Linked DNA regions of Homo sapiens: region 2 is linked to region 1. Evidence: fine-mapped expression QTL. Tissue or cell type: esophagus mucosa. Region 1 holds a variant in brackets; the other region holds the start of a gene. All regions are shown on one strand. Distances are between the middles of the regions.

Region 1 (8,296 bases):
AGGGCTCACACTTTTTCTTACCGTGGAAAATAAAAAGGAGACAAGTGTTTCCAAAGCTTAATAAAGTAAAAATCCAATATGGAATTTCTGTAATGGTTTCATCTATATAAAAACCAGGTCGTCATCTGAGCAGAGACCCGAAGGGAACAAGAAGAAATGTAATATTCACATTATAGGAGTAGCAGGGTGGTAAAGATGATTTCCTCTGTGTCTTCTTTTCCTATTATATAGTTATTTCCTATTGTATAATTTTTTCCATTACCTTTAATGGCAAAAACCGCAATTACTTTTGCACCAACCTAATAGCAGCTATAACATTAAGAATAATTTGGCCGGGCACGGTGGCTCACAGCTGTAATCCCAGCACTTTGGGAGGCCGAGGCGGGCGGATCACTAGGTCAGGAGTTCAAGACCATCCTGGCCAACATGCTGAAACCCCGTCTCTACTAAAAATACAAAAATTAGCTGGGCGTGGTGGCGCACCTGTAGTCCCAGCTACTCCGGCGGCTGAGGCAGGAGAATCGCTTGAACCCCAGGAGGCGGAGGTTGCAGTGAGCCGAGATTGTGCCACTGTACTCCAGCTTGGGCAACAGAGCAAGACTCCGTCTCAAAAAGAAAAGAATAATTTAACTGGATGAAGAACTCTTGAACACTAGCCATTTCAAAAGAAAAGAATCCAATCTATGCAGTGGGAATACGCCTTGCAGCAGACTCTCCAGGCTCCTTCTGGGCCAAGGAAGCTTCATCTTCCCCATTCAGCAAGAGCCAGAGGATTGGGTCTTGGGCTGACATATTGACAGTGTGATTGTAACAGGATCACAGTATCTCCACTGTATGACCAGATGAGGACCCCCAGCTTGCTCCTGCCTGCTCTCTCAGAGCCATCTCTCTCAAGGCCATCACACAGAGAGAAGGACTGAGCTCTCCTTGACCTCGTTCCTTCTGGGACCCTGGCAGAGTGATTACTTTCTCTTACCTTGGGAAACACGGTTAATCAGTCAAAACCTTGTCGGGCTGAATCCTACTAAACGTGACAAATTCTATTTCTTGGATCATGCTACATTTTAAAGCAAACTGTAGTTGCTATCCGAACGCTGGCCTTGACTCTATCTTGGGGTGAGAAGAGCAGCTGAAACCTCTGTGACCTTTTCCACACAGAACTTTGTGGGCTGGGAGAGGCTTTGTGCACTTCCACAGACATCTCTGTATTTTAGGTTCTTTAAAAAAGCAGATAATAAATAGTAGCTAATGGGTTGAAATGCTTCCTATGTCCCAGGAGCTGTGCTGAGCAACATCATACATGATTTTGTTTAATCTCTCCCTATGACCTTCATGCCATCCCCATGACATCTACTCCAACTCCTACATAACTTCCGATTGCTGAGCTCTGGGGGAGAAGGTGCAACAATTACCCCCACTTCACAGATAAACGAAGAGGAGTTTTGATAAAGAAATCTAGCCAGGCACAGTGGCTCACGCCTGTAGTTTCAACACTTTGGGAGGCCCTGGTGGGAGGATTGCTTGAGCCCAGGAGTTTGAGACCAGCTTGGGCAACACAGTCAGACCCCATCTCTACAAAAAAATAGAAAATAATTAGCCAGGTGTGGTAGTATGCACCTGTAGGCCCAGCTACTCCAGAGGCCAAGGTAGGAGAATTGCTTGAGCCCAGGAGTTCCAGGCTGCAGTGACCCGTGATCACACCACTGCTCTCCAGCCGGCGCATCAAAGTGAGATCCTGTCTAAAAAAGAAAAGAAAGAAAAGAAAAAATTGCCCAGGGTCACATTAAGTGACAAACCAGGATGGGAAACCAGGCCTTTGCACTCCAAAGCCTGCTCTCTTAATCACTATGCATATATTGTCTCAAGCAAAAAAGAAGTCCTGTGGTTGATATTTGGGAGATTTAAACTAAAGTTTTCTTTTTCTGTTGTTTATTTTAACTTCCCAATACTCTAAATCTGGAAGGGATCAAGAGATTATTTTCTACATAGGCTTTCATTAAAGAGGAAACTGTCATCTCTGGGCCCTTGAGTCAATCTCAGCTCCAAGAGAATTATGAGTGGCCAGGTCAGGTTATGGGCCCAGTCTTGGGATGGTGAGGCTGGCAGGAGATTATCAATAGAAAAGGAAGGTGAGAAAAACTGTTCGTGGCAGAAGCCATTGTTGCCTGAATCTGTGGTCCCAATCTCCATGCACACGCTCATTTCTCATTCCTCAGGGAAGGAAAGTGATTCCCCATCACCCACCAGGACCATGGGATGCTCACCCTAAAGAATTTCAGTCTATAAATAAAGCTGGTCATGTCCATCAGACAGGCTAAGCCTTCATCTATCTTGACATATCGAACATCAACAAGGCCAAAAACAAGAGTGAGGAAGAAGAGAGAGTGCTGCTGTCACCTCCTCTGACTCAGGGTCTTACTCACTGGTTGTGACTGCAAGTCCATATGTGTGACCAGACCCAAGCCTAACTGGATTCTTCTGCAATGAGGAGCCTCTCAGCCTAAGAGTGGAGCAATGCTCTGCCTGTAGGCCTCTTGGAGTCAGGATTACAGTCCATAAAAGAGGTGTCCCTTCCTGCAGGCCAAGTAGTCACCTGTAATGTAATAATAACAGTGGCCATAATGGAGCATGTGCCATGGACCAGACACTGTGCTCAGGACTTTACATGCACCATCTCATTTAATGTTTACAACAGCCCTACGAGGGAAATGCCATTACTGTTAGCATTCCCATTTTACAGACAAGAACACAGAGGCTTATTGGATTTGGGGTGGTAATACTGAATTTGACTGTGATATGTGTTCTGCTCATTTCTTAGTACTGCTTTGTGTTCCCAGGAGACTGGCCTCTGTGACTGCATCAGTAGGGCCTTTTTGCCCTGTGGTTCCAGTTGAGTTGGGCTAATGGGAGGCAGTGGCTTGAGCTGCAAAGTCAGAAGAGAGGTGTGGCCATTTATCCCTCCTCCTCCCTCCCTGTTGGGCCGGTTTTACCACTGGCTGTATTCCTCCTCTTCAGCCAAAGCTCCAGTTCTGTGGGCCCCTCCTACACGACAGCTCTCCCTAGGTTCAGGTAACCCTGTTCCTGCCCCTTTTGTCCCTGAAGGCAGAAAGGTGACAATGGCTTCCCCTGCTATTAGTCCCTGGGGACTTCACAATCCCTCGCTGGTTACTTTAACCTTCCCACACCCTTTGTTAAACTCTCTTCAGTAACATTATTTGAGTATATCATCTCTTTCCTGCCAGGACCCTTGGCTGAGGCAGAAACTGAATTTCTTGCTCCAGTTAGCACAGCTAAATATGGTAAAGCTGGGATTAGGAATCTTGGCAGTCAGACTCCAGAACCCACATTTTACATCACTATCTACATTGGTTAAAGCACCAAATAAGGCCACCAATGACACAGAAAGAGGAATCTAGCGCCTCATTTCAAATCCTCTGTCCTTTCTCAGATGCTACCATTTCGGCAAATAGGATCCACTGTCAGGGCCGAGTCCTGGGCCTCACTTTCTCCCGAGACTGTCAAGGTC[G/A]CCCCCATTCTCCCAGAATAGCCAGGGCCACTGTGAGAAGGACCTGTCCAGAGGCCCAGGAGCTTAGCAGGGAGACTTTCTCTAATTCAGGCCAGGCACATTCTCTCACTTGTCTTGCAGAGGCTAGCTGACCACAATCACCCCTACAGTGGGATCTAGATATTGTTATATGGCACTTAATCCAGAACAATGAAAGCAGAACCTCTAGGGGTGGGCCCTGGGCGGGTTAGTTCTAAACACTCTTCTAGTGTGTCTAGTGTGCAGCCATCTTTGGAACCATGGTACTAAACTGCAGGCAGCTGTTCAAATGTTACCTGTCATCATGACGTGTCCCTCCCAAGCCTGCGGTGAAACAGGTAGTAGCCTTTCCATCAGGAAAGGGGGTGGGGAGAGGAGGGGACAGTCATGTTTAAAAGTGATGGAATGTTTTATAGTATCTGAAGCTGATCCACAAGCGCTTCCAAGGCATGCTGCCTTAGGCACGAAGCAGCCACACAGCAGGCATATTCTATATGATAAGGTTTTTAAAATTTGGAGAGGGCTCAAGTCAGCTGAGTCAATGATATACTTGCTTCTATATCCAGCGTGCTCTCGATTAATAAATCCTTTGAAATGAGCCATATATAAACAAACTCAGATCCTAATAAATCACGCAAAGGTGAGCTCCTACTTGCCTGCCATTAGAACCACATCAAAATTTCCTCAGTGCACAGATTCCACGTGTCTCCTCCCAGTGAAGAAGATTTGAGTTTGAAAACGATCTCATGCTTTCTACTGCTATGCCTTCTTCTCTCTTGCCACCTCTGCCTTTTCTGTCTCTTCCACTAACTAGCTGTGGGACTAGAGCTAGTGAGGTCATCTTTCCAAGCTTTCCTTTCTTCATCTACTAAATCTGGTAGTCACTGGTTCTCAAAGTGTGACCCTGAGATGAGGAGCATCAGCATCACCTGCGAGCATGTCAGAAATGCAGATTCTCAAGCCCTACCCAGACCCACTGAATGAGAAACTCCGGGGTGGGGCTCAGCAATCTGTTATAGGAAGGCCTCCAGGTGATTTTAATGCACACTCAAGAACTATTGTTCCCAAATATCGTTATGAAGCTGTTCTCCACAACCTCCTTGTATGGTTTCCTTTCTTTGATGGCCAGTTTTCTTCCCAGGATGTCCAAAGCCCTCATTCTCTCTACCCCTCACTGAAACATGGTAAGTTCTGAAGACTTTTGCACCTGCAGTTCCTTCTGCCTTGAATGCTCTTCTCAATGGCTTCTTCACATCCCTCAGGTGACCTCAGGGTATGAAGTAGTTGGCTCCTAATATTGTCTACCCAGCAGACAATAGATTTGCATTGTAAGACTAAATTACCATCTATTATTATTTTATTTATTTGCATATTTTTGTCTCTCTCTTTCCCCTAAAATGTAAGTTCATGAAGTAGAGACCATATCTATTCATTTGCTGTATCCCCAGAACTTAACAATGTGTCCAGCATAGCCAGAACTGTTCATTAGCACTTTCTGTGAAGATGGAAATGTTCTATATCCACTTTGTCCAATATGGGAGCTACTAGCCATGTGTGGTGGCTATTTGGGCACTTGAAATGAATCTAGTATGACTAAGAAACTACATTTTAAATTTTAATTTAAATTAATTTAAATTTAAATAGCCATATGTAGCTACTTCCTACTGCACTGAACAGTGTGGCTCTAGACAAAAAAAAAAAAAAGCGTATTGAACAAATGAATAAATTCCTATCAAAAGCACTAAGAATGTGATTTTTTAAATTTGACATTGATTGGTAAATAATATTTTCATTAACTCTGATTCATACAATCATCTTGCCTGCAAAAAAAAAATTCTTTTTTACTCTACTTTTGGTAGGAACTTTTTTTTTTTTTTAAATAAAATGTTTTCAAGTTATAACCAGCATTCTGGTAAAAATTTTTAGCTGAGAAGTGGAATGGTAAAGGTAGAAACTAAAGTATATTAAATTAGCCTTCAAGGTAAAATCGAGTTCTTCTTTTTATAGGAGTTTTGGGATGGAGGGACCAGAAGGAATGATCCACGATCTCTTCCTACTTCTAATGGACTATTTTTACAGCCCTGGCAAGGCCGCCTATAAACTCTGGAACTGCTGGGGATGGAGGAAACTCTGTCTCCTCTTTAGCAGAAGAAATATGGTGAGGTGGAAGGGAAAGAATACAAGCAAAAGCACTTGGATTATAAGTCATCTTAGAAAGTTATTTAACCTCTGAGCCTCAACTTCCTGACATAGAAATTGAGGTAATAATGCCTACCTCACATGGCTAAGTATGTCAAGTGCTTGGCATGCAGAATGCATTAGTTCCCTTCTTTCATGGCCAAAATTTAACAAGTTCCAAGAGAAATCTATCTCCTGGGAAGGTTTTTTGGTCTCTCTGAAATACTCCCAGCCCTTATACTTTTTGAGCACAAGTCAACCTTCACTCAACCTTATCCTAACCCTGTTTTGCCTATTTTTCTGTCTTCTAAACTCTTAGATATATAATTTTACACTTGGGGGAATATTCATCGTTATCTTTGTTAGTAATGGATGATTTGACATAGTGTAATCCCTTTTATCAGATGTACTGGAATATATTCACAGCCCAAACTTCCTTTTCTTTAAAATAAAAGATAGGCTAAAAATGAGATCCAAGGATCCTTCCAGCTCTAAAATTGCTATATTCTCTGGTTATAGAGTTTCTAACAAGGAAGCATGTGGCCTAAATGTGTCACTTCATTATTAGAAATATCATAGTACTAAATTAAGCTCTGATGTCCCAAAATATCCCTGCACTTTAATACCAGATCACAGTTTCTTCCCTTGCTTTGTACCCTAGCCTAGCCTGTCTTCTTCTCTCTCTCTCTCTGTCTATCTTAGTTTGTATTCTCCCAAAAACAGAACCTGAGACAAAAGCTTAAACACAGTAGTTTGTTTGGAAATGTGATCTCAGGGACCAGGAGTATAGGATGGAGCTGGGAACAGTGAAGGAGGGAAAGGATTAGTGAGGATGCATTATCAAGGTGGCCACTGTTACAAGTGACTGGCTCCAACAGGATTTCTGAGAAACTTGATAAATCGCAACTCAAAACTGTCTGCCTGAAAGAGGAAAAGAGAGCAGTTATTCATCAATCCTCATCCCCCTTGATGGACAAGGGTGGCCTCACAGATATCAACTCCCTCGTACTTCTGAACTGTGCATGCCTTAGTATTGACGTGCTTCCCAAGGCATGGTGTCAGGACAGTCCAGCGTCAGAGAAGTGAGAAAGCCACAGCACAAGGCTAGTCTCTATCAGGCTGCACCCATGCAAAAGCTGATTGACACCTGCACAGACCTGGTAAACACAATAGTGGCATGAGCAAGAGGATCTGGAGTGGTGTACAGGGAGGTACAATCCATTTCTTGTGCTTGTTTTTTGTGCCCTTCTTTAAATTCAGTCTATCAGAGAATCCCTTTCATGGTGGTGGCCAGCCATAGTCTCTGCAAAGACTTAATTCAAGAGGGTTAGTGGAACAAGTTCCAGTTCTACTGTTCCAGCTGATCCCAAGATCATAATATTCTTCATCTCCCTCCTCCACTATCCACTTTAGACTTTTCTCACCCTTGCCTGATGTAGGCTCATTAACATCTTGCCTGATCTAGATTGCTTGCTTGGAGGGTGACCTTGAGTGTGAGAATGACAGCACAATCCACCAATGTGAGTCTCCTGATACACTTCCATACAGATCCTCTGGCTTTCATGACATGCCTTATGTTGCTAATTAACAAACCTGAGCCTGTCATTTTCTTCATTTGCTTTTTTCAAAGCCTCCAAAGCAGTCTAAACACACCAGCCAGCTCAATCCTTGTTATTACCATTGCTCCTGTACTATTTAAGGACCACGGCTATCACACCACCCAATGCTCTGCCTCTGCCTGCACCTCATCCCAATCCACCTCAGTAAGAGTCTTAGTAACTGAGATGGCGCTGGCCAGATACCACCACTCCACCCACCTCCAAAAATGGAGTCCTTATTACCTCTGAACAGTGAGTGATCTCACTCCAAAATCCCAATTATTGTAGCCTGAGTTCCCCTGAAAGCAGGACCTCAGACAAAGTCTTGCATGCAAGTAGCAGTGAAACAAGGAAAGAGAGAAGGCCAATACAAGGATGAATTTTCAAGGTAGCATTGCAATGGACAACCAGTGCTCAATCCTAAGGACTATTCTGAGAAGCCTCATGAAACGTATCTGAGAACCGGCCACATGAGCAACAAATGGTGGGAGGATTTATCCATCAGTTTCCATCCTCATTCGTTAAGGCCCACCAGGTTAGCCCCCCTAACATTTCCAGGTTGTACATGTGTGAGTGACAAGTGAAACCCCACAATAACCCACACCCTGGCAAACTGGTGGAAGCCTGTGCCAAACTAAATGCTACTTAGGTGACTGGAATAAAAGATAGGATTTGAAGTGTCTGTTACACTTCCTCTAAGAGGTGTCTGATACACTCCCTCTAAGATGTCCCTTAGGTTCCTATTTTCCCAGGATCATTCCAGTTTATGCCTGTTATCCCATTGTAATTAACAGTGTCCCCACTTTTTTGTTTTTGAGATAAGGTCTCATTCCATCACCCAGGCTGGAGTGCAGTGGCATGATCATGGCTCACTGCAGCCTTGACCTCCCAGGCTCAAGTGATCATCCCATCTTAACCTCCCAAGTATCTGGGTCCACAGAGGCACATCACCACATCTGGCTAATTTTTAATTTTT
Region 2 (8,296 bases), 160 kb after region 1:
TCTCAGCACCTCAAATGAGATTATGTTCTTTGCATACAAACACTAGTCTTTACCATTCCTTTGTTTGCCACATAATTAGTAATAAGGGTAGGCACAAAGAGGAGAGATTCCATAAATATTTGTTGGCATGATGTGAATATAAATAACCATTTAAGAATATGAAAAAGAACGTTTCAAGTCCTTATTTTGTACTGTAAGATTTTTTTAATGACATTTCATGGTCTAACCATGTCTACTTGTATGTTTTATTCAATACCTAGCCAATTTTGGCTACTTATTTAACTGTCACTCTAACAATAACAATAACTTATGTGTTCTCATTTCTGCTATATTTTAAGGTTTCAGAGTTTATTACACACACACACACACACACACACACACACACACGCAACAGACCAACAGTTACAGGTAACAAGTCTCACAGCGTCAAGTCAACATGCTTGCCAAATACCATCTCACCTTTTGAAATACAATTAGTGATTCTCTGATGAGGGGGATAGTGTCTTAATAATCTTTGTGTCTTAATAATCTTTCCATTTTGTGTCTTAACAATCTTTCCACTTTGTCCTTTTCATGACCATTCCTCAATGATTAATTTATCATTGTCTTACTTTTTCTTTTTTTAAATCCTTAAGGCTGTTACTGCCAACACTATTTTATTGCCAATACTATTGTATTTACTTAAAGCTGAGCTTATAAAGACTCTCACTCTATTAACCCAGCTGTGGCAAATGGCATTAAGGTACCACGTTTCTGATTCACTGTGCTACTGACAATCATCACTGGTCTGTTATATTGGCTTTAGGATCTAGGCTGCAGCTATACTTCACCATAAATTAAATAGCTGAATGACAAACAATCCTTTCAGCAGCATGTTCCATCACAATGGAAGGAGGGAGAAGGAGTAAGTAACCACAAAGAAAAGCATGGTCCCCCAGGAGGAAAGCAGCCCCAGAGCTGGCAGGGAAGAGGGTAAGTAGGCTGGGGTCAAAATAGCTAAATTACTGGAAACTAAATACCAGTAAAAAGTACTTTACCATCCCTGAAGACCACACCTAAGTTCTACATACTGAGCCCAGGAGCTTCAGTCTCTACAAATTAGTGATGTAGACAAATGAAGATATCCGTGCTTATCACCCCTAGCATATCATCTCATCCCTGGTAAAAGGAGATGGACTTGAAGATTTAAAAACAGGCTTCTTCGAGTTCCAGTTCTACCTTAGGCAAATCACTGAAACTCAAGTTTTCTTGTTGCAAAGTAGAAATAATAATGCTGGTTATATTTTTTCAAAGGGTGGAGAACACACACAAAAGTGATAATAGACATAAAAGCAGTTTGAAACAAAAGTAAATTATCATGCAATAGAAGACATACTAGCATGCTACTGACATGCATTCCTGTCAAATACAGAAATGTGAGCAATTTGGAGCATCTGTAACATCAGCCACAAATGGAGTAGCATTTTTTTCCCCAAGGTACTTTCATGGAGCTTCTCCTTTCAGCTTTATCATGTAGACAATGTGACCTGAGAGGGTTCTGCTGTCTGCAGAATCCTATCCTGATGAATCTTGATCAACAAACTCTTCTCCATCCATCAGACAGTTTATTTCAGTGACCCAATTGGACATATCATTTCTGGTTTTTGTGGTACACAAATGTAGCCATTTGCTTGGCTAGATCTCTAAGTAGCTGACATTTAAAGGGAAGCTGAAACTAGCTTCAGATACTTCTCTTATAATCACCAAGTAAACACAATATGGAAAAATAAGATTGACCTCACATCTTGCTTAGGGAATGAGTTTTCATTTTACAAAAATTAAAAGCAGTTTCCCTCTGCATAGACAGCTTCCCTATGTGAGAAGTTTTTTAAGTTCAATTAACAAAAATACAATTCCATACACCACTTTTCAGACAAACATCTACAGAATAAAGGGCAAAGGACACCTTTAGGTGGGGAGTGGACATTTTCCACAGCAGATAAACCCGTTTTCCTCATTTTGATTCTACACTTATATTTAGCATCGAACCATTTCCGTAATACCAAATTATAATATTGTAAAGGTCTGGCAGGAAACTCCGGAATATGTAGTAAGAAGCCTCCCATGAAAACAAAGACAAATTCACATCTCTCTAATTGGCTCCGTTGCTGTAGCTACCTTAGACTTGGTGAGCCTTGGGAGTTTCTATGAATAAACTCAACTAATATCAAATCTGTCTGCTGCACAAGTGCTCGGTTCATTATTGTGACAAATACAAAAAAAAAACCACTTTATTCATAAGAGCAAGTCAGAGTACCTTTAAACCTCTGTGTGTAAAAGAAGCAATGTTCTGATACTGTGAAACCTTAGCCGGTTGTGTGTTTCAATAGATGCTACTGTGGGGTTCTACTGGCATACGTGCCGAAGTCAGTCAATGACTGTAGATGCTTGGCTAAAAGGAGACTCCCTGGAGCCCAACAGCATCACTTGTGATCAAGGAAATACACCAAAATAAAGAGAAGGCATGTGAATTCTGACCACTCAAGAATTTTTGCCCTTTGGAGAAGAGATCCTTCAGAACCCTAGGGATGGTTTTGTGAACCACTCCCCACTCCCCCTCAAGTTTCAAACTAAAACTTCCAAAGAAAGAAGGCAGACACTTTAAAGCAGCCATCTCTCCTCTCTTCCACATCAGTTCTGCACTGAAATTGGATGCCAAGTGCTAGGCGGATCCTCGGGATCATCTCATCTTTGAGAACCCAAACTCTTAAGGGTCCTGTTTTGTTCACTCCTGCTTGCCTCCTCGCCAGCCAAGGTTCTACATGTTTGGAATCTACACAAGTCAGATTCTGTCAGTGACCACGAGGCACATGAGACATTTGGGCACCTCCGGCAGCACCTCCCAACTATTCCGGAGTCTCAAGCAGAGCCTCGCCTCCCCCAGGTCTAACCCGCAGGCCCTCTTTCTAATTAAGTGACCTTTCCAAGGAGCGTCCTCCAGCCGCGTCCTGGGGGACGAGTCAGGGGCTGAGCAAGGAGGCTCGACATCTCTGCGCTAAACACTCAACTGTTTGTTTTCTGCAAAGTGGCAGGACATATTTCGGTGGTGACCGCAGCAACGATTCGCTCCTCGATTGTTAGGCTCTGAGTGGCATTGGGGACACTGCGATCGACGGTTTGAAAGGAGTAAACCGTTGTTTTCGGGAACTTCTCTCTCACTGCTGTGGGATTGCGAGCGGAGGGAGAAAGAGAAAGAAAAGCCCACACAAAAGCAGCCAGCCCTGCAAGCTCCGCCAGCACAAAGGCCGGCTCGCTGGTGCGGAGCTGGGAGGCTGGGCTGGAGCTAGGAGTGCGGTGAGTCCTCCGAGGCCTGCGCGCCGCGCCCAGCGCGCCCAGAGCTGCCCCCGCGCACCCCACACCTGGGCACCGCGCTCCGGAGGAGGATCGGGGCGCACGCCTGGCGCACCCAGGGCTGCAACGCTCCCGGGACTGTTACGCTCGCGGAGCGACCCCACGCCACTGAGGCTCCGGTTCCGTCCCTGCCCCGGCGCCACGTCTGCAGCCGCGGCCGCCCAAGTGGCCGGAGCCGGGCCCGTCCTCACCTGTGCGCCTTCAGCTGAGCAGCGCGCGGAGGACAGAGGCAGCGGCGGCGCGGGCGCTCGGCATCCCAGCGGCGGGCCCTGCGGCGGCGGCGGCGGTAGCGGCGGCGACTCCCTCCGCTGTCTGGGACGCTAGGGGGAGGGCGCTTCGCTTTGTTGCTTATTCATAAGGCCGCGGCTACGGCCGGGGATTGGGCGGTGAGTAGGTGTGCCCGCCCTGGCTCTGCTGGCACTGACAGCCGACGCCGTCGCCCACGCCCCCCTGCGCCCACTTCCCCGCCTCCGCTCTCCCGCGGGGGCGGCTTCTGCTGGAGTCCCGGCACCTGGGACCCCTCGGAGATCCCGTGCTCCGCTTCCCCTCTTTAAGCGGGAGCTTCTGCGGCAGCTCGCCTCCCTATCTACGCGGAAGAGACCAGGGCACCGTTTACACGAGAAAAACCTCAATTTTGCTGTCTTTGGTTCAGGCAAGGAGCGCAAATCTGAGACTGCAGTGTTCCTTGTGGAAACTATGGACGGCTTGGCGGTGCCCTTAAGTAGGACCCTTAAAGTAACTCTACACAGAATGTCCCTTCTCAGTCCGTCGGAGAAGTTGCAAACTAGTGCTAGTCACAAGTAAGGTTTATTGAGCCCTTACTCCTGCCAGGCACAAGAGTAGATGCTTTGCCCATTACTTTACCTGCTTAATCTGCACGATAGAAGGGTAGATATTGTAGTTCTCATTTACCAGGGTAGGAGGTTAAGGCTAAGGGCTGTGTAACTTCTCCAAGGTCATCCGGCTCGCGTGGCCACCGGGAATTTGTGTCCTCCATTCTTGAGCCTCTCAAGGACTGTTTTCTTTTTCTGTTACTTCTAATGGTGTGGAAAGAGGTGTCGGAATCTAAAGGCCCGTTTTGGAACAACCTCCACAACGCAGCATTTTACATTTGCAGAGCACTCTTCACATTTGTCCCTTATTGTGCTTATTAGCTCCCTTCTTCATAATACCTTAGTCCCCTTTTGTAGTTAATTATAAACACCTTGAAGTCAGAGCAAAAGCTGGCTCACCTTTGACCCCCACACCTAACACAATGCACAGGTATGTACTGGTTTCTGTTTGTTTGTTTGTTTGTTTTTGAGACAGGATCTCACTCTTTCCCCCAGGCTGGAGTGCAGTGGCGCCATCATGGCTCACTGCAGCCTCGACCTCCTCCTGGGACCTCAAGCCATCACCCACCTCAGCCTCCTAAGTAGCTGGGACCACAGGCATGCGGCACCACGACTGGCTAATTTTTTATTATTATTATTATTATTATTATTATTATTATTATTATTATTATTGGTAAAGATGGGGTCTTCCTATCTTGCCCTGGCTAGTTTCAAACTCCTGGACTCAAGCGATCCTCCTGCCTCGGTCTACCGAAGTGTTTGAATTATAGACATGTGCCACGGTGCCCAGCAGGTATGCACTGTTACCCATTCCCCCTCCCTTTAGAAATTATTATCTATGTATAATCATGCATTGATTAATTAGGGGAATACATTCTAAGAAATGTATCCTTAGGCAATTTTGTTGTTATGCGAGCATAATAGTATACTTACACAAACCTAGATGGCATAGCCTACTACGTACCAAGGCTATATGGTATAGCCTATTGCTCCTAGGCTACAAGCCTGTACAGCATGTTACTGTACTCAGTACTGTAGGCAATTGTAACACAATGGTATTTCTATATCTAAACATTGAAACAATACAGTAAAAATACAGTATAAAAGATAAAAAATGGTGCATCTGTATAGAGCACTTACCATAAATGGAGCTTATAGGACTGGAAGTTGCTCTGGGTGAGTCAACGAATGATGAGTGAGAATATGAAGACCTAGGACATAACTGTACACTACTGTAATGTACGTAACCTTACACTACTGACATAACTGTATACTATTGTACATAACTACACTACTGTAGTTATGTAGGCTATAACTGTATGCTACACTACTACTGTAGTGTAAACAATGTACACTTAGGCTGTACTGTAGACATAAACATTTTTTCTTCAATAATAAATTAACCATAGCTTACCTGAATTTTTTACTTTATAAATTTTTTTTAACTTTTGACTCTTTTTTTCTTTGAGACAGGGTCTCACTCTGTCACCCAGGCTGGAGTCCAGTGGTACAATCACAGTTCACTGCAGCCTGGACCTCCTAACCTCAAGCAATCCTCCTGCCTCAGCCTCCCCAGTAGTTGGGACTACGGGCACATGCCACCACGGCTGGGTAACTTTTGACTCTTTTGTAATAACACAGCTTAAAACACAAACATATTGTACAGCTGTTCAAAAATATTTCATTTCTTTATTTCCTTATTCTATAAGCCTTTTTCTATTTAAAAAACAAAATTTTAAAAGGCCAGGTGGGTCATGTCTGTAATATCAGCACTTTGGTAGGCTGAGGCGGGTGGATCACCTGAGGTCAGGAGTTCGAGACCAACCTGGCCAACATTGCAAAACCCTGTCTCTACTAAAAATACAAAAATTAGCCAGACATGGTGGTGCGTGCCTGTAATCCCAGCTATTAGGGGGGCTGAGGCAGCAGGATCGCTTGAACCTGGGAGGCGGAGGTTGCAGTGAGCCAAGATCGTACCACTGCACTCCAGCCTGGGCAACAGAGCAAGACTCTGTCTCAAAAAAAAATTAAACTTTTTGGTTAAAAAACAAAACAGAAACACACACATTAGCCTGGGCCCATAAAGAGTCAGGATCATTATCACCATCTTTCACCTCCACATCTTGTCCTGCTTCAGGGGCTATAACACACATAGAACAGTCATCTCCTGTGATAACAAGGCCTTCTTCTGCAATACCTCCTGAAGGACCTGCCTGATGCTGTTTTACAGTTAACATTTTTATATACAAGTAGAAGTAGTATAATCTAATGATAAAAAGTACAGTACAGTAAACACATAAGCCAGAGTAGCATAGACATTTATTATTATCAAGTATTTACTGTACATTATTGTATGTGCTGTAATTTTATATGACCGGCAGTATGGTAGGTTTGTTTACACCAGCATCACCACACAAAGGAGAGTAATGCATTATGTTGCATCGTGCTAGGATATTCCGATGGCTACCATGTCACTAAGTGATAGAAACTTTTCAGCTTCATCATGATCTTATGGGACCATCATTTTATACGCAGTTTGTGGTTGACTGAAACATTATTATGGGTACATAAGGTACTTCCAGAATGTGATTGGATTGAATTGAATCTATGAAGTTTGTTTGTTTGTTTTTAGACAGGGTCATGCTCTGTCACTCAAGCTGGAATTCAGTGGCCCAATCACTGCTCATTGCAGCCTCGACCTCCCCAGGCTCAAGCAATCCTCCCACCTCAGCCTCCTGAGTAGCTGGGAGCACAGGCGTATACCACCACACCAAGCTTTTTTTTTTTTTTAATTTTTTGTAGAGACGAGGTTTTGCCATGTTGTCCAGGCTGGTATTGAACTCCTGCACTCAAGTTATCTGCCTGCCTTGACCTCCCAAAATGCTGGGATCATAGGTGTCAGCAACCACACCTGGCCTGAGATCTGCTTTTTGTATGTATTCAGTGCAATACATTGCACTGTGGCCAGGTCTTCTACCTGGATTCAGTACCCACCAGGTGGATGAGCCACACCCAGCCTGACCACGTTGTATTTCAGCATTTTATTTTTAAGTCAGTTGTTTGAAACTCAGACCACATCTTCTTGTAAAAACAATGTTATATAGTATGGCGGGGCTACTAGCTAGCCCACAATATTAAGTCTACTCAACCCAAATACAGGTAAATAATAGTACTAAAAAAAAACTAACCTGAATTCTGGGTGTTCTAACCAGATGGCCAGGCAGAAGAGAGACAGCAAGAGGAAGGAATTCCAGTTCTCCTCACATTTACACACAAATCTGAGACATTCAAAGTTTCTTCTTTTTTTTTTTTTTTTTTTTTGAGACAGAGTCTTGCTGTGTCGCCCAGGCTGGAGTGCAGTGGCGCAATCTCAGCTCGCTGCAAGCTCCGCCTCCCGAGTTCACGCCATTCTCCTGCCTCAGCCTCCCAAGTAGCTGGGACCACAGGCGCCTGCCACCTACTCCTGGCTAATTTTTTGTATTTTTAGTAGAGACGGGGTTTCACCGTGTTAGCCAGGATGGTCTCGATCTCCTGACCTCGTGATCCACCCACCTCGGCCTCCCAAAGTGCTGGGATTACAGGCGTGAGCCATCGCGCCCGGCCAAGACATTCAAAGTTTCTTTGACATCTTCCTGCCTCCTTTTCAGTATCCCTTTCTAACATCCTACTCTTCTTAGAGACTCAGTAGCCACATGATAATCTAAGTTCCAAGTACAGAATTCTAGTTCCAGACCTGAGTTAGACTCAAAATTTTCCATTCTTCAAAATTACCCTTCTCTCATAGCAAAATTCCTGTCTCCCATTTCCTCAATATAAATTATTTCAGATGTGCAGTAAAAGTAAAGTGATCTTATTGGAACTCATTTATACTAGTCCTGTATCCTTCCAAAAATGGTTTGTACTGCTTTCAACAACTCTGGTTTATACAATTTATCTCAACATCTGCTGTTGATACATGGCAGTGGTCATAAGATTTACTCTTCTCTTCCCTCAACACACACACACACAAATTGTGGGTTAAGGAAAGTTGTACTGTGCAAGCCAAATAAGTAAATCCACATACAATGAATGTT

What was found. PIP is the estimated chance that this variant, and not a neighbour inherited with it, causes the effect.
Region 2: it holds the start of ARMH4, and the variant in region 1 is fine-mapped to the expression of ARMH4 in esophagus mucosa (GTEx, PIP above 0.99).

What each region holds. Positions count from the first base shown.
Region 1 is chr14:57,984,790-57,993,085 of GRCh38, forward strand. No RefSeq gene overlaps it. Among named protein-coding and RNA genes, the nearest start is that of SLC35F4, 120 kb to the left of the region's middle. The variant G/A (reference allele first, on the strand shown) is at 3,527.
Region 2 is chr14:58,148,494-58,156,789 of GRCh38, forward strand. It overlaps ARMH4 (armadillo like helical domain containing 4), which reads right to left and starts at 3,720. Exons shown (of 8, transcript NM_001001872.4): 1 at 3,582-3,720. RefSeq lists silencers at 3,255-3,444, 3,545-3,764, 3,658-3,952, 3,845-3,914.